Regions from separate parts of the Homo sapiens genome. Here all the other regions are linked to region 2. The links come from fine-mapping of genetic effects on gene expression. A gene starts in region 2. Each other region holds a variant in brackets. All regions are shown on one strand. Distances are between the middles of the regions. Region 1 has its middle 3.4 kb from the start of TCEA2. Region 2 holds the start of OPRL1 (opioid related nociceptin receptor 1). Region 3 holds the start of MYT1 (myelin transcription factor 1). Region 4 holds the start of NPBWR2 (neuropeptides B and W receptor 2). Region 5 has its middle 11 kb from the start of MYT1. Region 6 overlaps TPD52L2 (TPD52 like 2).

Region 1 (5,000 bases), 20 kb after region 2:
GGCCAGCATCCCCACCACTGCCTGGCAGCTCCCCAGTAATGCAGATGCTGGGTGGTTTCCTGGAGAGGGCACAATCCTGGGGGAGGGTGTGGATCAAGGAGCCTGTAGTCATTCAAGTTCAGGCCAACGAACTATGAGGCCAGGTGGCAGGTGGAATGGGCTGAGCATTTCTTGGGCTGTCTGTGGCACTAATCACATATAACTGAGCTTCCCCGCAGCCAAAATGAAAAGGAAAATATGGTCAGTTAAGAGACTCATCTTAGCCGGGCAATAGTGGCTCATGCCTGTAATCCCAGCGCTTTGGGAGGCCCAGGCGGGTGGATCACCTGAGGTCAGGAGTTCGAGACCAGCCTGGCCAATATGGTGAAACCCCGTCTCTACAAAGAATACAAAAACTAGCCAGGTGTGGTGCCGGGCACCTGTAATCTCAGCTACTTGGGAGGCTAAGGCAGGAGAATTGCTGGAACCCGGAAGGCGGAGGTTGCAGTGAGCCAAGATAGCACCATTGCACTCCAGCCCTGGCCAACAACAGCGAGACTCCGTCTCAAAAGAAAAAAAAAGAGAGAGAGAGACTCATCTTGGTTGGGCACAGTAGCTCACCCCTGTAATCCCACCACTTTGGGAGGCTGAGGTGGGCGGATTATCTGAGGTCAGGAGTTCCAGACCAGCCTGGCCAACATGGTGAAACCCTGTCTCTGCTAGAAATACAAAAATTAGACCGGGCATGGTGGCTCATGCCTGTAATCCCAGCACTTTGGGAGGCCAAGGCAGACGGATCACGAGGTCAGGAGATCGAGACCATACTGGCTAACACGGTGAAACCCCATCTCTACTAAAAATACAAAAAATTAGCCGGGCGTGGTGGCGGACGCCTGTAGTCCCAGCTACTCCGCAGGCTGAGGCAGAAGAATGGCATGAACCCAGGAGGCGGAGCTTGCAGTGAGCGGCGATCATGCCACTGCACTCCAGCCTGGGCAACAGAGCAAGACTCCATCTCAAAAACAAACAACAACAAAAAAAAAATTAGCCGGGCGTGGTGGCACATGCCTGTAATCCCAGCTACTTGTGAGGCTGAGGCAGGAGAATCACTTGAACCCAGGAGGCGGAGGTTGCAGTGAGCCCAGATTGTGCCACTGCACTCCAGCCTGGGTGACAGAGTGAGACTGTCTCCAAAAAAAAAAAAAAAAAAAAAAAGACTCAGGCTGGGCGCGGTGGCTCATGCTTGTAATCCTAGCACTTTGGGAGGTGGACTGCCTGAGCTCAGGAGTTTGAGACCAGCCTGGGCAACAGGGTGAAACCCCGTCTCTACTAAAATACAAAAAAACAAAAAAAAATTAGCCGGGCATGGCGGCATGCGCCTGTAGTCCCAACTACTCAGGAGGCTGAGGCAGGAGAATCGCTTGAATCCGGGAGGCGGAGCTGGCAGTGAGCCGAGATCATGCCACTGCACTCCAGCCTGGCAACAGAGTGAGACTCGTCGCAAAAAAAAAAAGCTCAATCATAGGGAAAAAGCATAGAATTCCTTGTGAGGAGCAAAGCCTTTCTAAGACAGAGGCCCCGCGATATTATATTATTATTATTATTAATAGATGAACACGGTTTCCATACTGACTGATTCTGCCCCTCACAGTGAGCTGGGGACATAGCTTCCAGCCTAGACCATCCAAGCAAGTCCTCGTGGTCAGAATCCCATGGTTTGGGCATATATGAAGACTTGAAGGGTCCAGCCTCATCAGAGGCACGAGGGGAGGCTAGAGCCACCCAGCCTTCAACCACTGTCTCAATGGCTGACAGCCAGACCAAGGAGCTGGTCAGGGTCCTGTAGAAGCCACACTGGAACTGCCCTTGTGCAGGAACCCCAGAAAGTTTGGCTTCGGAGGTCCGGGCGGCCAGGGTTTCAAAGCTGGTTCCCACCGTCCACAAAGACACTGGCCACATCCATGGAGCCTGCCTGGCCAGACACATAGGCTTCTCCAACGGCCGAGTGTGAGTTGATTTGAAGACCACCGAAAGGAAGCCAGCCCTCAAGCTGGGGGTGGGGGGGAGACCTCCAAGTATCAGGACTGCAGATCCTGAGATGCTGGTAAGGGCTGCAGCACAGAGAGGCCCCTCCTGGGCAGGAGGTGCAGCCCAGACAGCACAGAGGAGAACTAACCCCAGAGAGCTGCAAGTTCCTAAGAGTGGAGGTGCAAAGGAGAGAGGGTCAACGTCCCAGAAGCATCAAGGAGCTGCCAGAGGAGGCTGTGCAGTTGTGCATAC[G/A]CCGCAGTCCCAGTTGAAGTGTTGGTGGGGCGGGGTCTGGGGTATCAGCACGGACCTCTGGAGCAAGTCACTATCAAGGAGCCAGCAGTGAGGCCGCTCCCCACCTGATTTCTCCCTGGGATGGACAAGCGCAAGGTTCTGGGGAAGGAGTGCACACAGACGCCCCCGGAAAACCAGACTAGAGACCCAGCCTTGACCCTCCCCAGGCCGGCCCAACCAGTGGAGGGACTTTGCATGAGGGATGCTTTTAAATATCTGGTTCATCTGAATGTTTTCAGCCACAAAGATCCCCTAGCACGGTAACTCTTAAAGCATTACCTAGGGAGCTGGGAGCTGGTCGAGAACAAAGACGACTGCCCCCTTGCACTCCCCGCCCCCACCAGGGGCTGGGGCCCTGGGGTCTCTGTCCTCTGTGATACCTGTGTGCAGATCAGAAGTACAGGCCACAGGCCAGCCAGGATGGATAAGGAACAAGGGGTGCCCAGAGGAAGGGAGAGGCACAAGAAGGGCTGGGAGTTTCTTTTCAGAGGTGCAGAGAGTGTCCCAGAGTTGGGAGGGAGAGGGATGTGGTCTGGAGTGTGTATTGAAGCCTCAACAACCTTACCAAGCTGCAGGGAGGGACAGAACCCACTGCAGGACAGGGCCTATAGAGACGATGGGGTGGGACAGAGACATACTGGGCCTGGGAGCTGGTGGGGGGCGGTCGGGCAAGATGGGAGGGAACAGTGCGAGGCGTCTCAACAATCCAGGGGGTCAGAGACCCAGAGACCAAACCCCTGACAGAAAATAAACTGGTGGGAAGAAACCATCATCTCCTTTTTTTTTTTTTTTTTTTTTTGAGACAGAGTTTCACTCTTGTTGCCCAGGCTGGAGTGCAGTGGCACGATCTTGGCTCACTGCAACCTCCGCATCCCAGGTTCAAGCAATTCTCTTGTCTCAGCCTCCCAAGTAGCTGGGATTACAGGCATGCGCCACCACACCCGGCTAATATGTTTGTATTTTTAGTAGAGACGAGGTTACATCATATTGGTGAGGCTAGTCTCAAACTCCTGACCTCAGGTGATCCACCCGCCTCGGCCTCCCAAAGTGCTGGGATTACAGGTGTGAGCCACCGTGCCCGGCCCATCATCTCCTTTATACCGACCTCTAGCAGAAAGGTGTCGTTCGTTCAGTTATGAACGAGGCCATGAACCAAATCTGGTCAGCTGGGCCCGTGGCTGACCCGGCACAGATGGGAACTGCCTCGCACCCCCACACTCGCTGCTGCTGGGACTGCAGAGGCTGTTCAGTGAGTCACATCTTGTTCAGCAGATTGGTAAAGAAGCACTTGGGTTTTGATATCACACTTTAAGAAAATATTTGCATAACTGTGTGTTGGTAGAACTGGCTGCCTTTATGACCCCGTGAATTCCACCTTGTGCTCTGTGTAGGAGGGGCCTCAACTAGGACTCCAGGAACTGGGACTCGGCCCTTGCTGAGCCTGAGTGGAGGTCCCACTCTGGGCCCTGTTTCCTCCTCCATGAGATGCCAGGTGGTCTTCTACGTCCTGGGGCCCTGGGCATGGCCACACAAGACAGAGCTCGTGAGGAGCCTGACATGTCTCAGTGGGTCCCAGTGGAGGCCCACAGAGGCTGCAGACGGGGAGGTCAAGATGCTGTGGCGTCTTAAGGACAACGGCTGGCAGGTCGGGGATCCCTCAGGAAGGGGTGTCAGCCGTGGGCCCAGCCTACGGGGCTGCATTAGGGCACGTGGGGAGCCTGGTCGGACAGGTGTGGATGGGGTCACTGGTGGCCTGGTTCATGGCAGGGGCAGGTGATGGAGAGAAAGGAGCGGACGGGACAGGCAGGGAAGGGGGTTAGCAGAAGAGGTCGGGTGCCTCTGACCTGCGGGCCGCAGCCACTCCGCTATGACAGGAGCCCCGAACCCTGACATGCTCTAGTCCTGCGTGGAAGCAACTACTGCAGGCGGAGAGGTGTAGGCCCATCCTGGTGATCAGGGAACCTGCAATCCGGTGGGATGGTCCCGCCCCCGGGCAGAGGCAGGTGACTGGCCCCAGAGCCTGTGAGGAACAGTGGCCTCTAGGTGGCAGGAGTGAGCCACGGACGGGTGGGCCTCACTTCACCACCACCCCACCCCCAAGCCCCAGGGAGGTCCAGGTGGTTCCCAGCAAGAGCCACAGCTGCCCCCCAGGACTGTGAAGTGGCCGAGGTGAGAAGGTGGCCAGTCCTAGAGAGTGGCCTCGTTTGTGAGGGCTGTGGCGGCGACCAACCCTGAAACTCCCCAGTGCCCCTGGTCCCGGGTCCCTCAGGAGCTCTGGACTTCTGGGACCTTGCTCAGAGCATTCTCGCCCCCCAGCAGACCCCTCCTGGAGCTTACCGACCTCCGGACTTCCTCCTCCACGGAGCTTCCCCAGCAAGCTGCTCAGGGCCGCCAGACGCTCCCGGGCCCTCAGAATTTGCACCCAGAGGCTGACAGCATCAGAACCATCGATTCTCCTGTGGGGCCTCGCCGCAGGGTGCTGCTCCAGCCCCTACTCCCGCCCTCGGCAGCTGAAGAACTTTCCCTCCCCTGTGCGCAGGCACACATGCACACGCACACACGCAGGCGGGAGCCTCGCACACACGGGGAGCCACTGCGGACTGGTTGGCGAGTGTCTGTCTCTCACCCGGCCCAGAGGCAAGGCCTGGATCCCTCAGCCGCGTTAGGGCTACGGTTAATGTTCGGTTTCGGTTAAACCCTGA
Region 2 (5,000 bases):
GCAGCCTGGACCCCAGGATTCTGTGTCTTGGGGATTGACTGAGTGCCTAGAATGAGTTCATCTACTGGGAGAATCACATATTATTTCACCATTTCTCTGAGACTCCATTTCTTTATCTTTAAAATAAGGGTCTTGGTGCAGTACCCCACAGCAGCAAGTGCTCCAAAGGGGATGGGTCACTCTGCATCAGACAGGCAAGAGGGAAGAGGGGCAGAGACAGGCACAGCAGACCCAGCACCCAGAGAAGGCCAGCAAGACAGTGACCTCAGTGACTGCACCAGGGTCAGGCCGGCACTCGGGCCCTTTGATCCCCATGAAAAGGCGCAGGGGGTGCTGGATGTGCAAAGGAGGCTGGGGAATGGGGCCTGGAGGGACGCCTGCCTGTAGAAAGCTCTATGGGAAGGAAGGCATGTGGTCCAAAGCCCAATATATTGAGGGCTGTCAGGGCGCAGAGGGTCCTGGGTTCAAATCCCAGCTCCGCCATCAACTGCCCAGCTCACCTGGCCCCACCCATGGACTTCAGGATGCTGTGTGCCGAGAGGCAGAAGCCAGGGCGGTGGAGAGCAGGCCCAAGGGGCCAGAGGAGACGGGGGAATGACTGGGGGGTTGTAGAGTGACCCGAGGGGGCAGGGAGGGCACTGACCTTCACCCCCTGCCAGCTGCCCACAGCTGCATTTTCCCACAGCAGAGACAACAGGCCGGCTCAGCGGGGTCAGCCTGGTTGTGTGTGGCCTGGGCCAGGTGCTGGCCCATCTTCGTTGAGCTTCCCTGACCTCACCTGTGCCCACCGCTCAGGAGTGTTATGTGGGCTGAATAAGTAGCAGCCTGCCTCTTGTCCCTGTGGGCTTCCTGGCCCCTGCCTTTCCTTGCCTGGCCTGACAACATGGCAGTCACAGGGTTCTGGGTACAGCTTCGAGAGGCAGCCTGTCTGTCCTCCAGGGCCCTCTGACCTCTGACCTCCCCCTTCGGGCCCCCGCCCCCGCTCAGCAGCGCAATACCCTCCCCTCCTCAGCCCTCCCCCCTCTCACCCAGGCCTTCCCTGCCTGCTCCCCACAACTCACTCTGCGCCCCCCAGCATAAGATCCAGGCTGATCTATGTTGCTGGCTTCTGGTCCTACTGCCTGGCCCACAGGGGCACCCAGATACTGATACTTGTCCGTTGAATGAGGAATACAAGTAGAATCTCCAGCTGCCTTTGCACCCCTCAGAGTTCTGTGAAGGTGTAAGGTGTGCACCTGACCTGTGCAACTGGAAGGCATTTTATGAACAGATCCCGACACTGGGAACTATCCGGGTGGAGTGCTTGTGCTGGGGAGGACAGGAGCTGCACACAGCCGGGCCAGGGGAGGGGCGGGGGGCACAGATGCTCTGCAGACACTTCCAGAGCAGGGTCAGGGCCACCCTGACACAGGGCCAAAGCATGCTGCGATGAGAAGCCTAACCCACGTCTGTACCGAGTCATAAAGGATGAGAAGAGTCGGCCAAAGGGACAGGGCGTTCGTGGCAAAGGGGACAGTGTGGCCTTAAGCTTTAGGACATCTTGGGACACACGGGTCAGCAGGGACTCTGCCAGGCCCCACAGGAGACATTCGGCATGACTCCGGATGCAAGAACCCGCACCCCCAGTTCTCCCCAGCCCCGCAGCACAGGAATCTCCCCCTTCCTTGGGAACCCCCCACAGCACAGACAGGCGGCTCTTAACCCAGTTTTACAGACGCGGCTCACGGAGGCGAGGGGTGGGCCGGGCTGGCGTACCCGCCGATCGGTCCTTTGCAGCAGCCTCCTCTTTCCCAAGCTGGGCAAGCAGCATATGGGGCCCAGCTCTCGTGCCTCCACTGTCGTGGAAGTCCCACACGGATGGCAAAGCAGGAACGGCCCCGCCGAGCAGAGTCGGGGGCCACGGCCACACCCCCATCTACTACCGTGCGGCTCCGTCCGCCCGGGAGCCAGGGCTCCACTATGAGCACCTCGACTCTCCGGGCCACCCCCAGGCGACTGTGGGGGCCGACGCGCGGGCGGGGCGGGTGGGGTGCGGAGCCGGCCGAGCGCGGGGCGGGGCGCGGCGGGCGGGGCGGGCCCGGCGACCGCCGGCGCGAGGAAGTCCCGGCCCCTGGCTTTGGGGAAGTGCCGCCGAGGCGCCTGCGCACTGCGCCCCCGCGCCCCCTCCCCGACTGTCGGGCCGGACCTTGGAGCGCGCGGGCCGGCGGCGGCGCGAGTGGCTCGGGAGCGCGGCTGGTGAGTGCGCGCGCGCAGCGCCGGGGACAGCGGCCCTGCCCCTCCCGGCCCGGGCCCGGGGACCGTGCTGGGCGGGAGCTTCGGGAGCCGGCGCACGGGACTCGAACCCCAAGGGCTCCCGCCGCCAGGTCCACGTGGACCCTGGGCCGCAGTGGAAGTGGAGCCCGCCCCCCGCGCGTGGGGGAGGGGGCGCCGCAGCCGGGTTCCCCTTTTTCTGGAGCTCAAAGCCTGGGGAAGTGATTGCTCAAAGGTGGGGGCCGGAAGAACCCAGGTTTCCGCGTCTCCCTCCCCCTCTCAGCCCGGTGAGGAGGGGCCGGGGCGGGACACCCTGTCCGCCCCCGCCCCCACCCCGCTGGATCTGGCAGCCACTCAGCCCTTCGAGCTGTAGGGGAGGCGCTGCGCCCCCGGCCCCAGCCGATCGGGGGCTCCTGGCGCTAGCCTCCCTCCAGAGCGCCGCAGGAGTCCCTCCTGCCGTCTGACTTGAGTCCCTGCTGCTGCAGTGCACGCCCCTTCGGCAGCCAGGGTGGGGCCCAGACCCAACCTGGCCCCTCCTGCCCCCACCCCGCCTTTGGGTCGCTGGTGAGTAGGGAGCTTTGAGGTAGGGGTGGGGGCGTCAGAGGCTGAAGAAAGAGGCACCTGGAGGAGAACACAGGCTTCTCCAGACTGGACCCTAACAGCAGAGAGAGGAGCGTGGTGGGTGGGCCACCACCACCATTTCAGAGGTGGGGAGAGCTGGCCTTCCCTGGAGGGGCCAGGCCAGGGCTCGCCCACCAGCCAGATGTGGAGGGTGGCAGATGGGAAAGGCCCTGGGTAGGAGCTAAGGACTGAGAATGGAGCCCCTCTTCAACCCCCCTCCCAAAGGTTATGACATTTTTTTCTGGGATTGTCACATTTTCTTATTCTTTTTTTGGACTGGGCAGGCTCTGGGACGTTCTTTTTCCTTCTGTGGAGCAAAGCGGCAGCCACTCCCAAGGGATCCTCTATCCCCAGAGAGCAGACGTGCCGCCTATCCAGCCTATCCCATCCCAGACTTGGGGGCCAAAGCCTGGGAGGCTGGGGAAGGGGGTCCCCAATGCCAGGTTGACAAGCAGGAGGACCCTAGTTGAGACTCTGTATCCCCCAGGAGAGACGGGGGGAGGGTAGCCTGGGGACATGGGTTGCCCCAGTTGACCTGAGAAGGGTACAGGAAGCCAGGTCCAGGGACAGGTGACCAGGTCCAGGGCCTGCAACTGGGAAAGAAGGGGCTGGCTCCCTGCTCTGCAGCAAATGCAGCCCCTAGCACCCCGGCCCTGCACCCCTAAACACGTCCCCTCCTCCAGTTCAGAGCTGGGGTGGAGATGGTAGCCCAGGGGGACAGTCTCAGGGGTGCTAGAGTGTGGGGGAGGACCCTGGGTGGGGACAGAGAGGAGGAAGAACTGCTGCCTGGGGAAGCCACAGACAGCCCCGTCTGGGTACAGCTACCAAACCTCAGGTTGCCACGCCCCTTCCTTTCCCTAGAAACTTGACCCCTGAAAGAAAGCCCAGCTGCAGGGCTACTTTCGGTCTCCTCATCTACTTGCTAGGAGCCCGTGGGACCCCCAGTCTCAGAGGAAACTGGGCCGGTGGTGAGGGGCCAAGGTCCCAGGGGATGCTGCACCTGCCCCAGACTTGGGCCAGGGCAGTGGCCTCTGCATGCCCAGGCCTCGGGGGTATTGGGGGCCCTAAGAGTGCAGAACTCCAGCACTGTCTCTTCTGAGGGCCATTCACACACCGTCCCAGGAGGCCAAGAGAAGCCAACCAGCCAGAAACAAGCATTCAAAGGCCACGAGCTAGGGGAGGCGTGGCGGGGGGATGAAGATTGAGAAAATAAAGTAGAATCAAGTTGTGAGCTTCCTGGCCAGGGAGGGTGGCGGCACATGAGGAGGGTGGCGGATGTGCACGGAGGCCCCTCCCTGCCCTGGGCAGAAGTGGGCGCAGGTGTTCACAACTGCCTCCGGGGCACTGATTGGCCCCCCTGTACCATCGCCCAAGGAGACTTGGGATTCGAAGTGGCATCTTAGGTGGCATGAGGGCCACTCACAGCTTTGGCGCTCCTGGTGCACCTCCCCTGCAGACGGTGCAACCAAATGCTGGGAGGGACATGCACCACACCACACCCCCCTCAGGGACTCCGAGGCTTCGACTGGGGAGCAGGGTGCCCCCCACCCCTGCCACCCCCACTTCCCTGGCTGGCGCACCCTGTGGTAGGGCCTTGGTTCCACAGCAGTTTCACAGCCTAGAGGCAGTGGGCAAGGAGGGAGGGAAGTCTTGGGTGGGAGGTAGCAGGACCAAAGAACCATGTTTGGGGGGCATGTCCCTCCTCACCGGGGCCCTGCCCCCCTTCCCACACCCTCAGCAAGTCCAGCCTGAGTCCCACTTAAATCCTCACTGCTGCAGGTCTAGCCTGCTGCCCCTGGCTGAGACCTCTGGGACCCACAGACAGACCTGGACTCTTGGTGGGAAGCCACTCTGCCCACTCCCCACCCCAGACACCCTAGAAGCCAGTCTGGCCACCACCCGCACGCACCAGTTGGTAGCCCCAGACTCTCGGGGCCCCTTTGGGAGGGGCTGGGAGCCGGAAACCAAGAAAGAGGAACCCAGGCTTCCGGCTTCCCAGGGAGTGAGCGGATGGGGGTGTCTCGGAACCTCCAGTGGGGGCCTCATCTGGGGCCCAGCCTGGGAGGAGGGGCCAGAAGCTGCTGCAGCTCCCTCCTCAATGATCCTGGACCCCCTCCCAGCCCTGCTGT
Region 3 (5,000 bases), 87 kb before region 2:
CGCTTTGACAAGCTAGCTCAGCGAGGCGCACACCGGGATTGGGGACGCGCCTCGGGTCTGTGGCTCTGGCTCACTGGGAGGCCACCCCAGGCACCTGCTGCTGTCAGTTTGCGGTCCGAGAGTCTCAGGGACCTTCTAGGGCCTTCTAAAGCAGGCCTTGGTGCACCATGGAGCATCCAAACTCCCACTCTCCTCCCACTCAGGCAGGACAGGTCAGCCACTGGCAGCTCTGTGGGTCCCTGAGGGAGACATGGAGGGTCCCCCAGGACCAGGTGAGAGGCTCCAACCGCCTTGACCCAGGGCCCCCTCTTCTCACGCTCCTCCTCTGATGTGTGGATTGCAGGCAGCAAAATGGAAAAAAAGAAGAGGACCCAGATGGCTTCTGCCCCAGCCCTCAGACCAGTGTTGAACACGATGGAGGTGTGAAGCCAGGCGTGAGAGAGAGGTGGGGCCAGCAGGCTCATCTGTCAGCAGCTCAGGCCATATGGTGCCTCCACCTTTCCTCCCGAGCATCCAGATCCCCAGTGCTCACCCCCACCTTGCCTGGCCACCCTGACTCCTGCAGAGCGCTGCAGCCTACTTCCTGAGGACCATCCAACCTGCACCCTCCTGGCACAGGCCGTGCTCCCAGGCCACAGTCCCAAATAAACCCCAAGGCACAGGGAACATATCCAATCAACTCCAAGCAACCCCAGGGCAAACCACACACTCAGTTGCCAGAGCACAAAGTCACTCTCTTGAAGGTTGGGGCTGCTGAGTGGAGGCTTCCGGTGCTGCAGGACAAGGGGTGGCAGGAGGACCACAGACACCCACAGCTGTGTCGACATCCTCTCTCCTCTGCAAGGCCTGGACTCCAATCCTGGCCAAGGCAGATGTACTCAGCCAGGGCAGATTAAAGCACGCTGAGTTACTTTCGTTCCCGATTAAAATAACATTGCATTTTTAAGTGCAAATTGTAAAATAAAAAAAAGGATGAAGTGATGGGTGAAACCAATCTTCCCACAAGGAACGCTCCTAATGGCATTAACCCTGGGGAGAAAAGACTCCACACTTGTATCTGGTTAGTTCCAGTAACACTGAAGAGAAACAGGAAGACATTTTCAAACTACACTTTCCACTTGCAAGTATCCATTAATCTCTTCTCTCTGAAGCTGGCTCCGTGGAAGCCTGAGATCAAAAACATTTTAATTCCGGTGAAATTCCTCTTGCTCATTTTTGTTTTGAGTTTTTTAAAGTGATGTTTGGGGAAATTTGGTCTGAAAGACAGAAAAATGCCGGGAACCTCAAGAGGCCGTGAAAGCACATTCCACCCCCCAGGCCTCCAGCAGACACTCCGGGCTGGGCAGTGGGCTCCCCAGTGGGGCTGTCCTGGAGCGGGGATGGGTCCCGCAGTCCCCAAAGAGCAGGAAGCCCACGGGGGAGCAGCACGGCAGCCACTGCTCTCTTCCCTTCTGGGAAACACGGCGTTTCTCGGTCTGACTAATCTAATGATGCTGGTTCCCAAAGACCATTTTCCTGTAAACTCACACCACAACATTCCTGTTAAAATTACATCTGTAGACAACTAACTTCTGGTTTATTCATGAGGGAGTTCACACGGAAAATGCAGAGGGGGAGGATCTAAGATGAGGAAGATGGGAGAGAGGAAGAAAGAGAAGAGCCCCCCCAGCCCCTGCGGGCACCCTGCTCCACTCTCCCGCCCAGGTTCCTACAAGAGAACAGGCAACAAAAGAGGGGCTCTGAGATGTGTCTTCCAGCATTGGGACAGGCAGAGCATCCACTCTTCAAGATGCCTGAGTAACATGAAAGTCTGGCTGACCGTCCAGTACCCTGCCTGCTCGCAGATCAGGTGACCGCCAGCAGCCCCCACCCACCCCACAGCTAACCTCCTGACCCCTGTTCCACCAGCTGGGTCAGTTCTCTACCTCCTCATCTACTCCAGGCCCGGTGCTGACCAAAGTGTTCTGGTTGTTCCCGGTCTCATCCCCACCCTGAGCCCCGACAGAGGGACTGGGTGGACACAAGCCTTGCTCAGTCTTTTCCAAAGTAGACGCACCTTTTGCACTGAGTCCGTCCAGGAAGAGCTCAGCCCCCACCAGCCCGCCCACTGCCACCGAGCAGCGGCTGGAGGCCCCGGGTTTCTCTCTGGCACTTTGTCAGTCTTCAGGAACCTCTCCTGCTCTCTCTGCACAGTACTGGGTTGTGCAAACTGGCATTCCAAGCGGCCCAGACATCACCAGACTGAGCAGCACCAGGAAGACAGTTAGTCAGGCTCTGACCCCTGTCTCCCCAGTGCAGAGTGGTGTGGGTCTCCTCTACCCACCACACCACCACAAATGTCATTGTCTGCACATTCAGTGACCCCAGGCCAGAGAGGAAGGGAGTGAGTCTCTGAGCAGCACCAGGGAGAGCGCCCACCACATCCACAGCAGGGACAGGCCAAGCTCCAGCCACCATCCAGGCTGCCGTTGGTCAGCTGCCAGAGCTGCCCAGCATGCACCCCCGTGGCCGCATACCCTCTGCCAGCCTCTCCCTGACATCTCCGGCACTAACAGAGCTTCCAAGTAGAGGCTGCTGCAACCCCCAGACCAGAGCAACTTTGCATCCCACATGGCTAGAAGGGGTCATCTCAGAGAGTGTTTCCCCACTCATGCACCAGGGGCATTCAAGGGAGTAGGTGACCACTGCCTTTGCCAGAATCTTCCAAGAGGGGCCAGAGCATTAGCTCTGAACAACTGAGGCTACCTCCAGATCTGTGGGCAATGGCTGAGGGTCACAAAAACCCTCGAGTGGCACTTTGGACAGAAGCAGCCCCCCTGCCTCGGGTCTCTGAAGAGGGCTACCAGGCCCTCTTCAGGGATTCATG[G/C]CCCAAGGAGGTCAGAGCCGAGGCTGTTCCAGAGCAGAAAGGCCTCTTTGTCCAACTCTCTGTGGCTCCTGCTCAAGCTCCTGGATCAGCAAGTACCCCTGGGAAGTTCGGCAAACGTCCAGGTGCCCAGGGGGTCGGGGGGACCCTGTAGGAGTCTCAGTCTCTACGGGACAGAAGAATCCATAAGACTGCCTCCTTCTCTTTGAAAACAAACTGCCCTCTAAGCCCTGACCCAGCCTCCTCTGCACAAGGAACAGCTACCGAGGGAGACAGGGCAGGGTCCTGCCTCTACTGATAGCAGCACCCTGGCTGGTACCACAGGACTCCAATCCCTGCTCTCTTACTCTTTTGTTTACCGTTAATTAACAGGGCCATATGGAAGGAGGCGATAATCACAGCCAAGGACCAATGGGAGGGGAGCCCGGGGTGGCAGGGAGGCTGGGGGCCGAGGGGAGCCTCCCTCAGTCAGCCCTGTAGAGGATACAGCACCCCCACTCCCCAGGCCAGAGTGAGGCCAGGACAGGCTCTGCTGGCACCTCAGAGGAGACAGAGGCAGAGCATACCCCTCAGCACCGAGTGGGCCCCCCCAGGTCTGCCCCACATCCCTCCCACCTTTTGTGCACTCAGCCACTGGCGTTAGAGGTGTCCTCAGTTTTCTGTGATTTAAAAGAAAAAAAAAAACTGCAAGGGCAAAATTCTCCACCGACCTCTCCCAAAAGGATAATTATAATCATCGCTGCCATTATCATCATCGTGACAGAGTCCATGCCCAGGACCAAACCCACCTGCAGCCACGGAACCCCCCGCACCACCGCAAATGTTTGGTTTCCAAAATTAAACACCCAACTTTACCAGCCAATGGTGTCCACTGATTCAAAGGTGATGCTGAGACAAGCAAAGCCCTTGGTGACTCAGGAGGAGCAGTGAGAACCCACCACTCCAACACAAAGCCACCAGCACTTGTTTATTTTCCTGGTTTATAGAGAAGAAAGTGAATTCAATAGACAGAACCAAAGTCCACGGCCCCAGAACTACAGACAATGGCATTAGGGTGTTCAACTTCTTAGCTAACCCTGATTTTTAGTTTTAAATACAAAAATCCAGTTACACTACCACCATAAACAACCACACTCCACAGCTGCACGGACACGTAGCGAAAAAAGGGGCTGAGAGGAGCGGCCGATATTTACTTCTGCACATCTATCCCACAGACGCATGCACCCTAGATATTGATCCTTAAGTTGAGAAATGCATGACATGCAGACAAAACGTTCACGTGAGCACCTCTCCTCAGTACCTTGGGTGGGGGTCACACATGACACACCCCAGACTCTGAGACCCTGCTTCAGAGAGGTCTTCTGCTTAAGCGGCCAGTGCTCTCCCCAGGTACGGGGCTGCTGGGTCCCACGGCCACAGACATATCCGTTGTTCCTCTTCCAGAAATGCGCATAAAGTTTCTGGTTTTGATATGCGCTCCCCTTCCCCTAATGTCTCCTCTGTCAGACGCACAACATGTCCCCTGGAATCTCAGAGGAGCATGAACAACAGAGAGACAGGAGAAAAACAGCACACGGCAGGCCAGGGAGGAGAAGAAAGCCCCCGTCCTCCAGAGCAGTTTCAAAAAGCCATCCTCAGACCTGCTTTTCCTGCAAACAGAGCCTTCATCTTAGAAATTAACTCTGCCCGCGCGCCCTCTCCCTGTCTCTGTCCAAGAGGAAAAGCCAAGCGTTGGGTATCTGCCTTTGTCAGAAAGAACGTAACGTTGACTTACCTTTCCCCACAGCTATTGTCTGTCCTCTTTCAAAATGACATCACGGAAAGCAATCATGAAATTTACATGGGGGGTGCAGGGTGGACTGGGGGAGGAGAGGGAAGGCAGCTGCCTCCCGTACAGCGGTCACATGTGGGGAAGCCTGCGTGCGGGTTTCAATTAAATATCTTCTCCCCTTAGTGTGCGAACTCCTAAGCCAGCTAAAGGCGACGTCTCATTTACTTAATGACTGCTCTCATTAGCAGCGGTGGCACGGGCTGGCGGAGGAGGCTCCTTTGTAAATACGCTACCCATGAACCCTTGGGGCTCCAATATATCTGTTTACTCTCTGAGGTGAAATAAATTTACAGTATAGCATCAGAA
Region 4 (5,000 bases), 26 kb before region 2:
TCCCTTCCTGACACACAGGCGCACACGTGCCTCAGCCGCCCACTGAGGAGTCTGCCTGGGTAAGTGAATGCTGAGGAGACCCTGGGACAGCCGACTGCAGGCGCTACTGCAGCTCAGGGGAAGGTGGGGCCTGCCTTCCGGGCTCCACGTCAGCAAGGGGGATCCGCCTCCCTCCCTCACCAGCATCAGCACTGACACCAGGCTGGGAACCTCGCAGCCGGGGCTGAGGCAGCCAGCAGGGCAGGTCTTGAAACTCCTGAAACCTCAGCTGGAGGTCTGTCAGTGAGGACCACACCTCGCCCTCCATCCCTGCGACTGCCTGTACTGGCCAAAACCAGGAACACACCAAGGCTACCAACTTCTGGACTCGAAGCACTGGACAGGTCAGTGGAGAGAAGAGTAGCTGGACCAGCAGGGTCTGCAGCATCTCTCGGGAGGGTGTGAGGGAGGGTGCAGACTCCAAGACCCCTGAGGGAAGGACCTTCAGATTCAAGGGAGCCAGAGATGAGCTTGGGAGGTGTGTTTCCAAAGGGACCGCTTGATTCTACGCAGCCCGTGCATCTGCGGGTTGCTGGGGCAGGGACGGATCCACATCTCTTCCCAGGAGGGTGGCCAGCAGCTGCTCTCTGCGGGAGGAGGGAACTGATCTGCTGAAGTCTCACCAGGAAGAGGCGGGAGGAGGCCCCCACACACCCCACCAGGCTCCCTCTGGCCCCATGTCCTTGACCTGGCAAAGTGGCCGCAGTCTCTGCCAGAGAACCTGGAGTGGCTGTGCCCTAACAGACGGCCGGATCTCAAAGTCTCTGGTTGTTTTTCTTTCCTAGAATCCAGCCCAAGGAGGCCCCCAACCAGATACCCAACTCCAAGGCACCTCCCACCTGCCCAGGGCGCAAATCGTCAACGGTCCCAGCTACAATGCAGGCCGCTGGGCACCCAGAGCCCCTTGACAGCAGGGGCTCCTTCTCCCTCCCCACGATGGGTGCCAACGTCTCTCAGGACAATGGCACTGGCCACAATGCCACCTTCTCCGAGCCACTGCCGTTCCTCTATGTGCTCCTGCCCGCCGTGTACTCCGGGATCTGTGCTGTGGGGCTGACTGGCAACACGGCCGTCATCCTTGTAATCCTAAGGGCGCCCAAGATGAAGACGGTGACCAACGTGTTCATCCTGAACCTGGCCGTCGCCGACGGGCTCTTCACGCTGGTACTGCCCGTCAACATCGCGGAGCACCTGCTGCAGTACTGGCCCTTCGGGGAGCTGCTCTGCAAGCTGGTGCTGGCCGTCGACCACTACAACATCTTCTCCAGCATCTACTTCCTAGCCGTGATGAGCGTGGACCGATACCTGGTGGTGCTGGCCACCGTGAGGTCCCGCCACATGCCCTGGCGCACCTACCGGGGGGCGAAGGTCGCCAGCCTGTGTGTCTGGCTGGGCGTCACGGTCCTGGTTCTGCCCTTCTTCTCTTTCGCTGGCGTCTACAGCAACGAGCTGCAGGTCCCAAGCTGTGGGCTGAGCTTCCCGTGGCCCGAGCAGGTCTGGTTCAAGGCCAGCCGTGTCTACACGTTGGTCCTGGGCTTCGTGCTGCCCGTGTGCACCATCTGTGTGCTCTACACAGACCTCCTGCGCAGGCTGCGGGCCGTGCGGCTCCGCTCTGGAGCCAAGGCTCTAGGCAAGGCCAGGCGGAAGGTGACCGTCCTGGTCCTCGTCGTGCTGGCCGTGTGCCTCCTCTGCTGGACGCCCTTCCACCTGGCCTCTGTCGTGGCCCTGACCACGGACCTGCCCCAGACCCCACTGGTCATCAGTATGTCCTACGTCATCACCAGCCTCAGCTACGCCAACTCGTGCCTGAACCCCTTCCTCTACGCCTTTCTAGATGACAACTTCCGGAAGAACTTCCGCAGCATATTGCGGTGCTGAAGGGCCTGGGCACCATCACCCCCATCATCATGCCCATCATCACCCCCCATCATCATCACGCCCATCATCATCATGCCCACACCCCCATCAGGCCCACCCCCCCCCACCCCCACCACCACCCCCACCATCACCCCCACCACCACCCCCATCATCACGCCCATCATCATGCCCACCCCCATCACATCCACCATCACGCCCACCCCCATCACCCCCACCCCCACCATCACGCCCACCATCACCCCCACCCCCACCCCCACCCCCATCATCACGCCCACCCCCCCCACCACCCCCACCATCACCCCCATCATCACGCCCACCCCCACCCAGTTCCGGCTGTCTCTTTCAGGGGACGCCCGGCCTGTTCACATCCCAGTGCTGTCCTCTCCACGCAAGGAGACACAGACCCTCACACGCTGGCCACCAGACCTACAGACAGCCGTGGGCATATACCTCCCATGTCTCTGCTTCCTGGACAGCCCCTGGGTGGACAGCAGCAGGGATCCAGGTCCTGGCAGAGGCCCCCACACAGCAAGCATCCCGGGCCCACTTACCCACGAGAGACAGACAGATGGACAAGCCCCTTGGAAGGCTCTGGGACTCAGGATCCCTAATGACAGTGGTCGGGAGGGGAGGGAACCTGAACTGTGATCTTGACCTGGGCCACGTTACATAGTCTCTCCCCAAGATGGGGCCGGG[G/A]GGTGGTAAGTGCGGGCACCTCAGGCAGCAGCGATGCTGTGTTGCTGCAAAGGCGGACACCTGCACCGCATGAGACCCAGAAATCCACTCTCGTGGCCTGAAGCCCAAGTGGAGTTCCAGCAGGAGGCCCAGCCCCGCCGTGCCCATGTGCCATGGCCTGTGCTGCTGTGTTCCCCCTGCTGTGGCCGACGGTCCTTGCCATGGCCTGTACCCGCCCTGCTGTGTCCGACAGTCCTCTCCATGGCCTGTGCTCCCCTGTGCCCCCCTGCTGTGTCCGACGGTCCTCTCCATGGCCTGTGCTCCCCTGTACCCCCCTGCTGTGGCCGACAGTCCTCACCATGGCCTGTGCTCCCCTGTGCCCCCCTGCTGTGGCCGACAGTCCTCACCATGGCCTGTGCTCCCCTATACTCCCCTGCTGTGGCCGACGGTCCTCTCCATGGCCTGTGCTCCCCTGTACCCCCCTGCTGTGTCTGACGGTCCTCTCCATGGCCTGTGCTCCCCTATACTCCCCTGCTGTGGCCGACGGTCCTCTCCATGGCCTGTGCTCCCCTGCTGTGGCCGACAGTCCTCACCATGGCCTGTGCTCCCCTGTGCCCCCCTGCTGTGTCTGACGGTCCTCTCCATGGCCTGTGCTCCCCTGTACCCCCCTGCTGTGGCCGACGGTCCTCGCCATGGCCTGTACACCCCTGCTGTGGCCGATGCTCCTCTCATACTTTACTAGAGGCTACAGGGCCCTTTTGCCAGGACCTCTGGGCCACCACAGCCTAGGGACCATCCATCACTTGGACAGGCTGGCACCTGGAACTCTCTCTCCCGGGGTGTGGCCAGGGGCTTGTAATCAGCCAGCAGGAGCTGCATGCTGAAACTCTGGTGGGGGCAGGGTGAGGGGTGGTAATGAAATGCAGGCAGTTCAGAGACCGCTGACTGTCAGGTGGGAGGGGCCAGGGGTTGGTCCCAGGTGTGCTGTGGCCAGGCCCCGACTCTTGGCCCCATGGCTCTCAGCTGGTTCCATGCCTGGCATTCCAGCCTGGCAGTGAGGTGTGAGTGTTCTGGGTTGGTTTCAGTCCTCATGACCCAGAGCTCTGATCAATCTGTCCAGCCGGCACACAGGACCCACCATTCACCGCCCCACGAGGTGTCCCAGGGTGTATGCCCACCTCCACCCATCCACCAAATACTCCAGCGTTCCAGCCCACTCGGCTCAGGCCTGCAGCAGTGCCCCTCCTCCGTGCTAGCCAGCCAAACACGCCACGGCCATCTCCATCCACTTATCCTCCCTGACAACATTGTATTAGATATCTGTTGCTGAATAACAAATTTCTCCAAAACTTAGCCGCTTAAGACAACTTCTACTATTTCACTTCTGTGGTTCAAGAATTAAAGTGGCTTTTTGGGTGGTTCTGGCTCAGGGTCTCTCCTGAGGTTGCAGTCAGGACCTTGGCCCAGGCCCTGACCCTCTGAAGGCTGGGCAGGGGCTGGGGTATCTTCTTCTGAGAAGTCTTCCTTCCATGGCTATGGGCAGGAGGCCTCTGCTCCTCAACACATGGATGCTTCAGGGGCTGAGTGTCCTCGAAACATGGCACTGGGTCCCCCAGAGCCAGCGACCCAGGGAGGAGCCAGCGACCCAGGGAGGAGCCAGCGACCCAGGGGGGAGCCAAGAGGAAGCCTCAATACATTTGAGGCCAAGATTCCGAAGCCACTTGCCTTCCCTTCTACTACATTCTGTGCATTGGAAGCAAGTCACATGTCCAGCCCACACTCGGGGGCTGTAGACGGTTTATTTTTCTTTTGCTTCAATTTTTTTTTTTTTAATTGAGAAGGGATCTCACTCTGCTGCCCAGGCTGGAGTGCTGTGGTGGGGTCACGGCTCACTGCAGCTTCGACTTCCTGAGCTCAAGCAATCCCCCCACATCAGGCTCTGGAGTAGCTGGGACTACATGCGTGCGCCACCACGCCAGGCAAATTTTTCTTTTTTTTGAAAGACGGGGTCTCACTATGTTGCCCAGGCTGGTCTCAAACTCCTGGGCTCAAGTGATCCTCCTGCCTCAGCCTCCCAAAGTGCTGGGATTACAGGCATGAGCCCAGTCTGTGGGCAATTTTTAAGCCACCACCAACACCGACACCGCAGGAAGAACAAGCTGTCCCTGGATTTGTTTCCTGGCTGCGCTGCAGTCACACCTCGCAAAGCAGCAGCACGGCAGCCTGACTGCGCTCTGCACGCTGTTACGGTGCCCCGGAGCCCCTTGAGGAGACAAGTGAGACTGTGTTTCCCAGACACCCGCTCCAAGCCCGCGGCAGAGCCAGGTGTGAGGCGTAATGAGCAAGTGAACAACGAGGGGCGGGCAGGAGAGGCCCGGGCGTGGGAATGTGCGCAAGGCAGGACTGAG
Region 5 (5,000 bases), 74 kb before region 2:
GTCCAGGGACCAGGGTCAAGGCGATTAAACACAGAGACGGACACAGACAGGGGCAGGAAAGGAGACAAAGGATGGAGAGGGAGAGGTGGCCCACAGGCAGAGAGGTGAGGCAGAAACCAGGCCGGCTCAGACACACAGATGGACAGAGAGGTGAGGAACACAGAGAAAGAGAGGAGGACACAGACTGGCCGACCACCAGGGTGCCCAGGAACCGGCTCGGTGACAGCAGGAAAAGGGAGCAGCCGGTGGGGCACCCTGACTGTCCCTGTCATCACCTTCCACCCTGCAGGGGTCACACCACATCAGCATGTGCATGTGCGTGTGTGTGCCTGAGTGTGTGCACAGACACGTGTGAGGACAGAGGGCCCAGCGCCTTGCCCTGCTCCAGGCTCTGTTTAAATGGCTTTGGAATTGTGCTCCCAGAACAGATGGCCTCGGAGATAAAGCTACCGGGTGCCTGGACAGAGAGCGAGGCTGCGGGCGGTTGCCATGGCAGGCTGGACTGGTGAAGATCGCTCATTAGCAGACAGAGCAGGGCTCACAAATGTCAAGATGGGCTCATGGGGAGGGGCACCCCCAGCAGAGCCCCGGGAGGGAAAGTCTCTGGACTGAATGTCCGGGCCCTGCATTCCCAAGAATGGAGCTTGGTGGAACCGGTAGGCACTGGCCAGCTGCTGACTGATGTCCAAGGATGACAGCCACGCTGGCCTGGCCATGTTGGGAGAAACACCCCTCCAGTCTCTGTCCCAAGATGCCCAAGCTGGAGCCTGAGACACACTGACCCTGGGATGGTTCCAGCCATGCCCCACATGGGAGATCAAGAGCCAGTTCGAGGCCAACACCACACTCTGGGATGACAGGATGGCTTCCTGAGTGAGGCAGTCCCCATCCTCACATGCAGCACTCTGGGGAGGGGTGGGAGCCGACCACAGGGGCTCTACAGCCTGTGCCCAAGGCCCTCCCATCCCAGCTGGGAGCCCAGAGAGGGAAGGGGCAGCTGGAGCCCTGGACAGGGTCTAGGAGACAGATCCCAGAGCGAGATCCCCCATCATTCCAACAAGCACACCCTGAGCACCTCCATGGCCAAACCCCACTGAGGAAGCCAGGTTGGATGTCCCCACTGCCACTCAAGCTATGGGTCCAGCCCCTGAGGAGGAGGAACGAGGATGCTCCTATTGGTGCCGGGCACAGGGCAGCTTCATCCTTTAGTCCCCTGAGGGTCCACAATGTTGTTCCCAACTTGTAGGTGGGCTCAGAAGGGTCGAGGGCCCGCAGCTCCCAGACAAAGCTGGGACTGACGCCCTGGACCGTCTGGCACCAAAGGCTGGATCTGAGCCAAAGAAGGGCCTCACTGGTGCCTTCCTCAAATGAGAGCTCAGGAGGGACAGACCCAGGGCCAGAGGGGTCCCCTGCTAGGCTTCAAAGGGAGGCAGAGCCAGGACAGGAGGTTTCTGCCCTGGAGTGAGCAGGAGGCATGCGGAGGTCCAGGAGCAGAGCCGGGGCACGCGGCGTGGGGTCCAGGAGCAGAGCCAGGGCACACGGCGTGGGGTCCAGGAGCAGAGCCGGGGCACGCGGCGTGGGGTCCAGGAGCAGAGCCGGGGCACACAGTGTTGGGGCAGCTGGGATGGCACAGGGGACCCTGGGCAGGTGCCTAAAGGGCACACCCACCAGAACAACAGGGAACACGGGCCATGGAGCCTGGAAGGCCTGGGACTGCCCAACAAGCCCATGTGCCTGCACCCGACCAGGAGCTCTGCCTAGAGCCCCAGAACCTTCCCCAGGACCCCAGCCTAATATACCCTCCAGATAACCCCACCTTCCCAGGCCAGAGCAGCGTGGGCCCTCCAAATCCAAGAGCCCCGGGAGGCCCTTCCATCCACCACACACAACAGACCCTACACACACCCCACAAATGCACAGACACACAGACATACAGACATACACACCATATACACACCACACACACATACACACATACCACATACACACAACAGACCCCACACACACACCCCACACATGCAGGCACACACACAGACATACACACCATATAGACACCACACACACACACAGACACACACAAACACACACACACCACATACCTCAGACCCCACAGACCCACAGACACACACACCACACACAGACATACACACAATATACACACCACACACACACACAGACACACACATACACACACCACATACATCAAACAGACCCCACAGACCCACAGACACACACACACACCACACACAGACATACACACCATATACATACCACACACACACAGACACACAAATACACGCACACCTCAAACACACCACACACATACACACAACACAAACACACATACACACCATATACACATCACACGCATATATACAGACACACAAACACACTACATAAACACACACACTGCACATACACACATGCAGTGTTTGTGCAGTGGA[T/C]CTGCAGAGACCCGCCGGGATGACACCGCCTCCTCTGCCAGCACACACAGGCCATCAGTTCCTCCTCATATGAGGCCCCAAGCCCCGCACAGCCCAGTTATGACCAGGAACTAAGGCTCAGACAGCGACTAAACCGAGCAAGGTGTGAGCCCCAAGGAGGCGGCAGGGGAGCGCAGCCGTGTTCTGAGTGGCCATTGTCCCACCACCTGTGCCAAGAGCCACTGGCCCTCTCGGGCGTGGGTTTGCTGGCCCTGCCCCAACACTTCAGCTGCAAGGGCACCTGTATGCAAATGCCACCAAGGGCACAGGGGGAGGGGGCTGCCCAGGCCAGAGCATGCAGGGTGCTGGGAGAAAGGCAGAGGAGGTGACCTGGGGTGACAGCTGTGTGCTTGGGGTTGGGAGGACACAGGTCCCCCCCCCACCCCAAGGGATAAGCAAGATCATGAGAGGAGGGGTGTGAGCCCCACCCCGAGCCTGGGAGCCCGAGGCACCGGCTCTAAAGAAGGGGCTGTCAGGCTGGGTATGGTGGCTCACGCCTGTAATCGCAGCACTTTGGGAGGCCAAGGCGGGCGGATCACAAGGTCAGGAGTTCAAGACCATCCTGGCAAACATGGTGAAACCCTGTATCTACTAATAATATAAAAACTAGGACATGGCATTGTGCATCTGTAGTCCCAGCTACTCGGGAGGCTGAGGCAGGAGAATTGCTTGAACCCGGGAGGCAGAGGCTGCAGTGAGCCGAGATCACACCACTGCATTCAAGCCTGGGCAACAGAGTGAAATTCGATCTCAAAAAAAAAAAAAGGAAAAAGAAGATGAGGCTGTCCCACCTGAGGAACAGGGTGCTTGGAGCACGGGCCTGCCTGGGCCCAGGCACATCAGTCTCTGTATGAAGCAGGTGCGCTGACCCCTCCTCTCATCCAGCTGCAAAGTCTGCTTGGAAACCCTGCCTTGGACCCTCTGAGTCTGCAGGAAGCCGTCCCGCCTGGCAGTCCCGGCAGGAGGAAGTACCCTTACACACTGGGATGATTCCAGTGAATCATCACCGTGCCTCACAGGAAGACTGAATTTACTTGTTTTACAGGATCAAAGAAATGATAGATCTTTTCTGAGGGCCATGACAGCATGGCTGAGTCAGGAACGGGGCCTCAGTGGGGCCACGTCACTGGTACACAAAGTCCCAGGCCCCGACCTGCAGCAGCCAACACAGACTTGGAGGCTCAAAGACCAGTAGATGTCCGACAGCACCACATGAAGAACCGACGGGCAAGAGCTTCCAACAGAGACCCACGTGACAGGCAATGTGTGCACACCAGGTACACAGCGGACCAAACACACACACACAAGCCCTGAGACCACACAAAGCCCGTGGGTCAGATTCAAGGTAGCTGAGACCCAGCTGGACCACCGAGATGTGTACCCATCCTGCACCCTCGCTGCAGCCACAAGCTCGTCTTGGGCTCCCCTCAACCTACCTGACTGATGAGGACCAGAAACGCGGGAACATTCTGCCACCGGTTTCCAAATCACAGACGATCCCAGACATTCCACTGGCTCCAAGTTAATGAAGCAGCTTGCAAACTCCTGCTACTCCGCCGTCTCCCTTTGTGCAAATGCGTTCATCAGCCCCATGCTTGCAAAAAGCTGATCTCTTCTAGTGCCACACAAAAGCCAGATGCAAATGGAAACCTGCAGGAGGGAGACTTGTCTGTAATTTGTGCTTTTAGGTTGGAATTGCCACCTCTGTTTCTGACTTCAGTGCCTCTGACCCGGGCCTGGAAAGATGAGGAGTGGGAACCTCCTGGCAGCCAAGAGCATCCTGTGGACAAAGGAGACAGGGGAACGCAGGAGCCAAACGCACACCCACACTTTGTCCTGAGGTTGGAGGGCGGCTGGGGAGGGCTGTGTACCTCTGGAAGATACAAAGGATACACAGCCGATGTTCTCTTCTGAACCCATCCTCTGCCCAGGACAAGTTGACCTGGGCACTCCTGATGCCACCACTGAGAACCTTGAGGACCTCGTGCTCCTCTGCGCCCCGCTCCCTGCCAGGAGCCCCCCAGGCCTCCTCCACACAGATACTCCTGTGTTTCAACACCCACAACGAGGCTGGTCCTGACTGACCTCCTCCAAGTCCCACTCATCTCAGGACCTTTGGATGGCCCTGACACAGCACTCAGCACCCTTGACTTTGCCAGAAAGCTCAAAGAGGTGAGCCGTCTCTTCCACTGGGATATAAGCTCCCCGAGAGTTCCTGGCACACTGACATTGCTCCTTAAATACCTGAATGGTCCAGCTAGTCTCCTGAGTTCTCCACAGGGAAGACCAAGTCACATCCTGTTCAGGGCTCTCCAACACCACCCATGAAGGCCTGATCCCCACTCTTCTTGGGGCCTAGGCCCAGATGTCTAGACTGAGCTTTTCTCATCAAGCACCAGCCTCACGACCCTGTCCTTGCCTCTGTGTACCCAGCCTGACCTAGTCCCTGCAGTTCCTGTACTGACACCCTCCCCTTCCCTTAGCCAGACCCCTAGGTGTGCACCTCTTCTCTGAGAG
Region 6 (5,000 bases), 190 kb after region 2:
TTACCTTTATGGTCCCAACTCGGTCCTCAAACGACTTGAAGGTCGCAGAGTTCCTTTAAAGAGAGAGGGAAGAGTGTCGGTGTCAAGAGGAGAGGGTTGTGCTGCTCTCCTAACTCGGAAGGGCCTCAGGGTTAGGGCCAGCCTCCAAAGGGTCCCTAACAACATCCCAAGATCTCATGGCAAAACTGTGAGACAGCCAGGTCATTCCGGAGACTCCCCAGGTCAAAAGTGAGGTCGGCCATGCCCAACAACCACAGGGACAGGTCCAGACGTCACACAAGGCAACTGGAAACCCCTTGACTGTGCAGCTGGGGAGATGTCGGCCCCTCTCTGTCATACCCTACAGGGACATCCCGGGCTCTCGTACTGAGGTTATGAAAAGTCTGTGCAGTTGGGGGGCTGTCGGCCCCTCTCTGCTGTCCCCTACAGGGACACCCCGGGCTCTCGTACTGAGGTTATGAAAAGTCTGCGCAGTTGGGGGGCTGTCGGCCCCTCTCTGCTGTCCCCTACAGGGATACCCCGGGCTCTCGTACTGAGGTTATGAAAAGTCTGTGCAGTTGGGGGGCTGTCGGCCCCTCTCTGCTATCCCCTACAGGGACACCCTGGGCTCTCGTACTGAGGTTATGAAAAGTCTGCGCAGTTGGGGGGCTGTCGGCCCCTCTCTGCTGTCCCCTACAGGGATACCCCGGGCTCTCGTATTGAGGTTATGAAAAGTCTGTGCAGTTGGGGGGCTGTCGGCCCCTCTCTGCTATCCCCTACAGGGACACCCTGGGCTCTCGTACTGAGGTTATGAAAAGTCTGCGCAGTTGGGGGGCTGTCGGCCCCTCTCTGCTGTCCCCTACAGGGACACCCTGGGCTCTCGTACTGAAGTTATGAAAAGTCTGTGCAGTTCTTCATGCACATCTCTCAGAGAAGCAAACGGAAGACCAAGGACACTTCTGGGACAGCAGAGTGATAAGGAGACAAGAGGAGAAAGCAGGCCAGCTCCATCCCACTCAGTCCCTCCCACACAAACAGATACCCCTCCCAGGCCCGGGGACTCTAGAGGCCAGCACGTCTGCGACACCCAGCCAGAGTCCCCACAAGGAGAACAGGGCTCTCCTGAGAATCAGGGCGGTGCCTGACGGCGCAGGCACAGAATAGGGACCACAGTTCTGGGCTCTCCTGAGAATCAGGGCAGTGCCTCACGGCACAGGCACAGAATCCTGAGAATCAGGGTGGTGCCTGACAGGCACAGAATAAGGACCACAGCTCTGGGTGTTTCCGTGAAGGCTGAGACCGTGAAGTGTCCTGAGTGACAGCCCACCAGGGCAAGTGCCAGGATCTGTGTGCGAGCCCCTCGAACCCCACCCCACCCACTGCAGGCAGCCAGGGTCAGGACTTGGAAAGGACACGGCCCAGTTTGACACAAGGATCTCCTCTGGAGGCTGCAGGTGAAGAGCCTGACCCCCTACCAGCTCTTCCTCGTCAGCCTAGAGGGGGTTTTTACCGGCCCTTAGTCATCAGAGGTTGCCAAGGGAATGGAGTCCTCAATTAATCCAGGAATATGGGAAGGGCAAGGTGTAACCGGCGGGAGCTGCCCCAACCCCCACCAGAGACACCCGGCTCTGGAGCCGCAGCGAGCAGGCATACATTACCTCATGGCTGGCATACTTATTGAGTGGCGGATGGAGTAGCTGCTGCTTGGAAGCATGGCAGAAGCAGAGAAGGAAGCAAGAGTTAACACCAAGATCCACACACAACCCCAACTTGGCAGGGATGGGCAGAGCTGGGATTCCCCCACTCCCAGCAGTTGGAGCGAGCTGCCTGCCCCTCCACACAATGCCCCCGAAGGAAACTCGACCCCAGGGTCCTCCCTTGGCCTCATGGGGGGCACCCCAAGTTGCCCAGCGCATAGCACTGGGAGG[G/A]GGGAGAGCACTGCCATAGGAAGCTGTGAGGAGACCAGGCTTGGGCTTTTGAAAAGTATTTGGTACAAACAGCCTTCAGAAGTCAAGTAAGGACCTTTTGGCAAAAGAGAAACCACCAAGTCAAGTAAAAACACAAGAAATCACAGATTGTTCTGGGCCTGGCTCTAGACCTCCCGGTTCCAGCAGAAGGGCACGTGCTGGCGGCGCCCCGGCTTGGCCTAGAGGAGCTTGCTCTGGTCTGCAGGAGGGCCCTTTGGGAGGCACACCTATGGGCTCTCGGGTAGTAAACAAGACAAAACTCCATCTGAAGGAAAACAAGGAAACAGGACAGATGTTGAACAGGAAGGTGGTGAGAGTCGGCACAGCCCTCCCACGTGAAAAGGCTCCTTTGAGGGCCCGGCGCAGTGGCTCACGCCTGTAATCCCAGCACTTTGGGAGGCCAAGGCGGGTGGATCACGAGGTCAGGAGATCGAGACCATGCTGGCCAACATGGTGAAACCCCGTCTCTACTAAAAATACAAAAATTAGCCAGGCGTGGTGGCTCATGCCTGTAATCCCAGCTACTCAGGAGCCTGAGGCAGGAGAACCGCTTGAACCAGGGAGCTGGAGGTTGCAGTGAGCCGAGATCACACCACTGTGCTCCAGCCTGGTGATAGAGCGAGACTCCAACAAAAAAAAGAAAAAAAAGGCCGGGCGCGGTGGCTCACGCTTGTAATCCCAGCACTTTGGGAGGCCGAGGCGGGCGGATCACGAGGTCGGGAGATCGAGACCACGGTGAAACCCCGTCTCTACTAAAAATACAAAAAATTAGCCGGGCGTGGCGGCGGGCGCCTGTAGTCCCAGCTACTCGGAGAGGCTGAGGCAGGAGAATGGCGTGAACCCGGGAGGCGGAGCTTGCAGTGAGCCGAGATCGCGCCACGGCACTCCAACCTGGGCGACAGAGCAAGACTCCGTCTAAAAAAAAAAAAAAGCTCCTTTTCAGGAGTAAACTCAGGCCTGGACGCCAGGCCAGTTATTCACAGACCCGGCAGCAGGCGGTCTGTGAGCCTGAAGGGAAGCACGAGGAGGGGACACAGAAGGGCCGGGGGGTTCCGGGGGGCCTCTGCGTCGATCCCACGCTGCTGCTTTGTTCCCTGAGATGCAGCAACCACCTGGCTGGCACTGCTGTCCTGGAAGGGGTGATCCCACTTTCACTGCCCTCTACTAGCACAGCCGCCCAAGGGCCCTGCCGGAGTCCACCCTGCCCCAATTCAGAGAAAAGTCTTCCACAGGTGTGTCCAGGCTCAGCCTTACCTAAAGGAGTGTGAAAATGGATGAGCCCTGGAAGGTGGCAGCAGGAGAGAAGAGGAAACGAAGTGTAAGCAAGGGAGGCCAGCACCCACTCACAGCCCTCCTCGGGGAGCCCCAGGGGAGGCCCCCTGCTCGTGCTCAGTCAGGCCCAGCAGGGGAAGACCCTCCAGGACGGCTCCTCCAGTCCGCACACCACCGGGGACAGCAGCACTGTCTCCAGTCTCCTCAAGTCCTGACTCAACAGGAGGCTCTCGCAAGATCATGACTAGCAACTGCTCAGCCTCACGGCTGTGCCCAAGAGGCCCCTGGGTCCACGCCCTGTCCACGCCTTATGCCCCAAGGCACACCTGTTTGGAGAAGCCACAGCACCTGGAGCACAACCAGCCCCATCCAGCAGCGCAAAGGTGTGAAATGTGCCACAGCATGACAGCTGGGCTTGGCCAGCTCCACAGAACGAGAGCGGCCCGTGTTCCCCAAATCACGTCAGCTGAGGGAGCACACGCACCGTGGGAGGATGTGGGACACCCTTGGCGCCGAGCATTTCTGCTCTGCGCTCCATCCGTGCCCACAGACGCCAACCTGGAAACCTGTGTGTCCAAGGGCAGCTGCTGCCACTCACTGCAGCCAGGCCCACTCTGACATGGAGGGAGCCACTGAAGAACTGAGAAACACTCAACTCGCCCGAGGTCCTGAGAGGGCCGATGCCTCATCTGAGACCACGGAGTCAGACGGTGACCTGACCCTGCTGTAAACCCCCACTCTGACCTGAATCCAGTTCCCTTCCTCCCATCCCCATCACCCATGCCCCAGGGCACACCAAAGGCCTCACAGACCGGGGCTGCCCTGGGACAGGCCCATCATGGACACGGGCGTTGGGCAGCTGTCCAGAGGGGCTTCCGCCCAAGAGTTAGCAGGGGTCCGCCGGGGTTCATCCAGCCCTAAACTCATGACATAAACCTCCCAGAACCCAATTTTCACTTTCAGGAAGTAGTGAGCTCTCAACCTCAGTCTCTAACTCGAGGTGAATGGGCCCAGACCTCAGAAACCACCTGTGACTGCTTGGGGAGATGATGGGGATACACCAGGGGCTCCAGACGTCAGAGTTCCCACCACCACTACAAACATAAATGGAGGAGCAAGCAGGGCAAGACACACCAGCAAACAGGACCCTCCACGGGCACCGTGAACACGGCCAGCCAACTGGAGCGAGCTGGCTCGTCCCAGGTCAGCCTGAGGCCCCGCTCCCCCAGCTGGCCCCATGTACCAGGGCACACGTGCAAACACGTGGCACAGTGTGGCTGGGCACACTGACAGCTGTGCCAGCGTCACTGCAACAGGAACTCTGCTCACTGCCAGCCATGCCCTGAGGCTACACGACACGGGTCAGCTGCCAACCCCAGGACTGAGCAGAGAGCGAAAGCCTTTCTCCCCATCAGAGAAGGAGGAGCAGACAGAGAACCAGGACCGTGTCCCTGTGCTTCCAGAGAAAAACAGGCCATACAAACAAATGCCCAGATCAAAACCCTAGGACTGGCTTGTGCACGGCTATTCCAATCAGTGCCAAGGGCTCCACGTGCCCCTTGGATTTCCACCACAATGGTCTGAACAAACTCAAAAGGGAGTGTGGACACTAAGAGTGGGCAAACGCCTCCTGATGGCCGGCATAATTTAGGCACAACAAACACCTGTTACTTCCTGAAGATGCTCTGTGGTGAGACCAGCATTTTCGGGAAGAAAACAGCCCTGCGAGGCTGAGTTCAGCTGAAACTCAGGGGGTCCCTCCTGGGTCCAAAGCTCAGCAGT

Evidence for each region.
Region 1: its variant is fine-mapped to the expression of OPRL1 in whole blood (TOPMed, PIP 0.90).
Region 3: its variant is fine-mapped to the expression of OPRL1 in whole blood (TOPMed, PIP 0.97).
Region 4: its variant is fine-mapped to the expression of OPRL1 in whole blood (TOPMed, PIP above 0.99).
Region 5: its variant is fine-mapped to the expression of OPRL1 in whole blood (TOPMed, PIP above 0.99).
Region 6: its variant is fine-mapped to the expression of OPRL1 in whole blood (TOPMed, PIP 0.99).

Annotation. Positions count from the first base shown.
Region 1 is chr20:64,057,291-64,062,290 of GRCh38, reverse strand. It overlaps a transcript of TCEA2 not described here. Among named protein-coding and RNA genes, the nearest start is that of TCEA2, 3.4 kb to the left of the region's middle. RefSeq lists enhancers at 3,834-4,521, 4,522-5,000. The variant G/A (reference allele first, on the strand shown) is at 2,260.
Region 2 is chr20:64,077,108-64,082,107 of GRCh38, reverse strand. OPRL1 (opioid related nociceptin receptor 1) reads right to left here and starts at 2,026. Exons shown (of 5, transcript NM_182647.4): 1 at 1,756-2,026. RGS19 (regulator of G protein signaling 19) reads left to right here and starts at 2,590. Exons shown (of 6, transcript NM_005873.3): 1 at 2,590-2,814. RefSeq lists silencers at 1,442-1,615, 2,009-2,688.
Region 3 is chr20:64,164,377-64,169,376 of GRCh38, reverse strand. It overlaps MYT1 (myelin transcription factor 1), which reads right to left and starts at 4,925. Exons shown (of 23, transcript NM_004535.3): 1 at 4,638-4,925. The variant G/C (reference allele first, on the strand shown) is at 2,867.
Region 4 is chr20:64,102,747-64,107,746 of GRCh38, reverse strand. NPBWR2 (neuropeptides B and W receptor 2) reads left to right here and starts at 182. Exons shown (of 2, transcript NM_005286.4): 1 at 182-383; 2 at 825-3,945. The coding sequence starts at 916. The coding sequence ends at 1,917. RefSeq lists an enhancer at 134-634. The variant G/A (reference allele first, on the strand shown) is at 2,614.
Region 5 is chr20:64,150,830-64,155,829 of GRCh38, reverse strand. No RefSeq gene overlaps it. Among named protein-coding and RNA genes, the nearest start is that of MYT1, 11 kb to the left of the region's middle. RefSeq lists enhancers at 3,035-4,234, 4,235-4,914. The variant T/C (reference allele first, on the strand shown) is at 2,445.
Region 6 is chr20:63,884,243-63,889,242 of GRCh38, reverse strand. TPD52L2 (TPD52 like 2) reads right to left here. Exons shown (of 7, transcript NM_003288.4): 6 at 5-53. Among named protein-coding and RNA genes, the nearest start is that of DNAJC5, 8.4 kb to the left of the region's middle. RefSeq lists a silencer at 2,841-3,011. The variant G/A (reference allele first, on the strand shown) is at 1,908.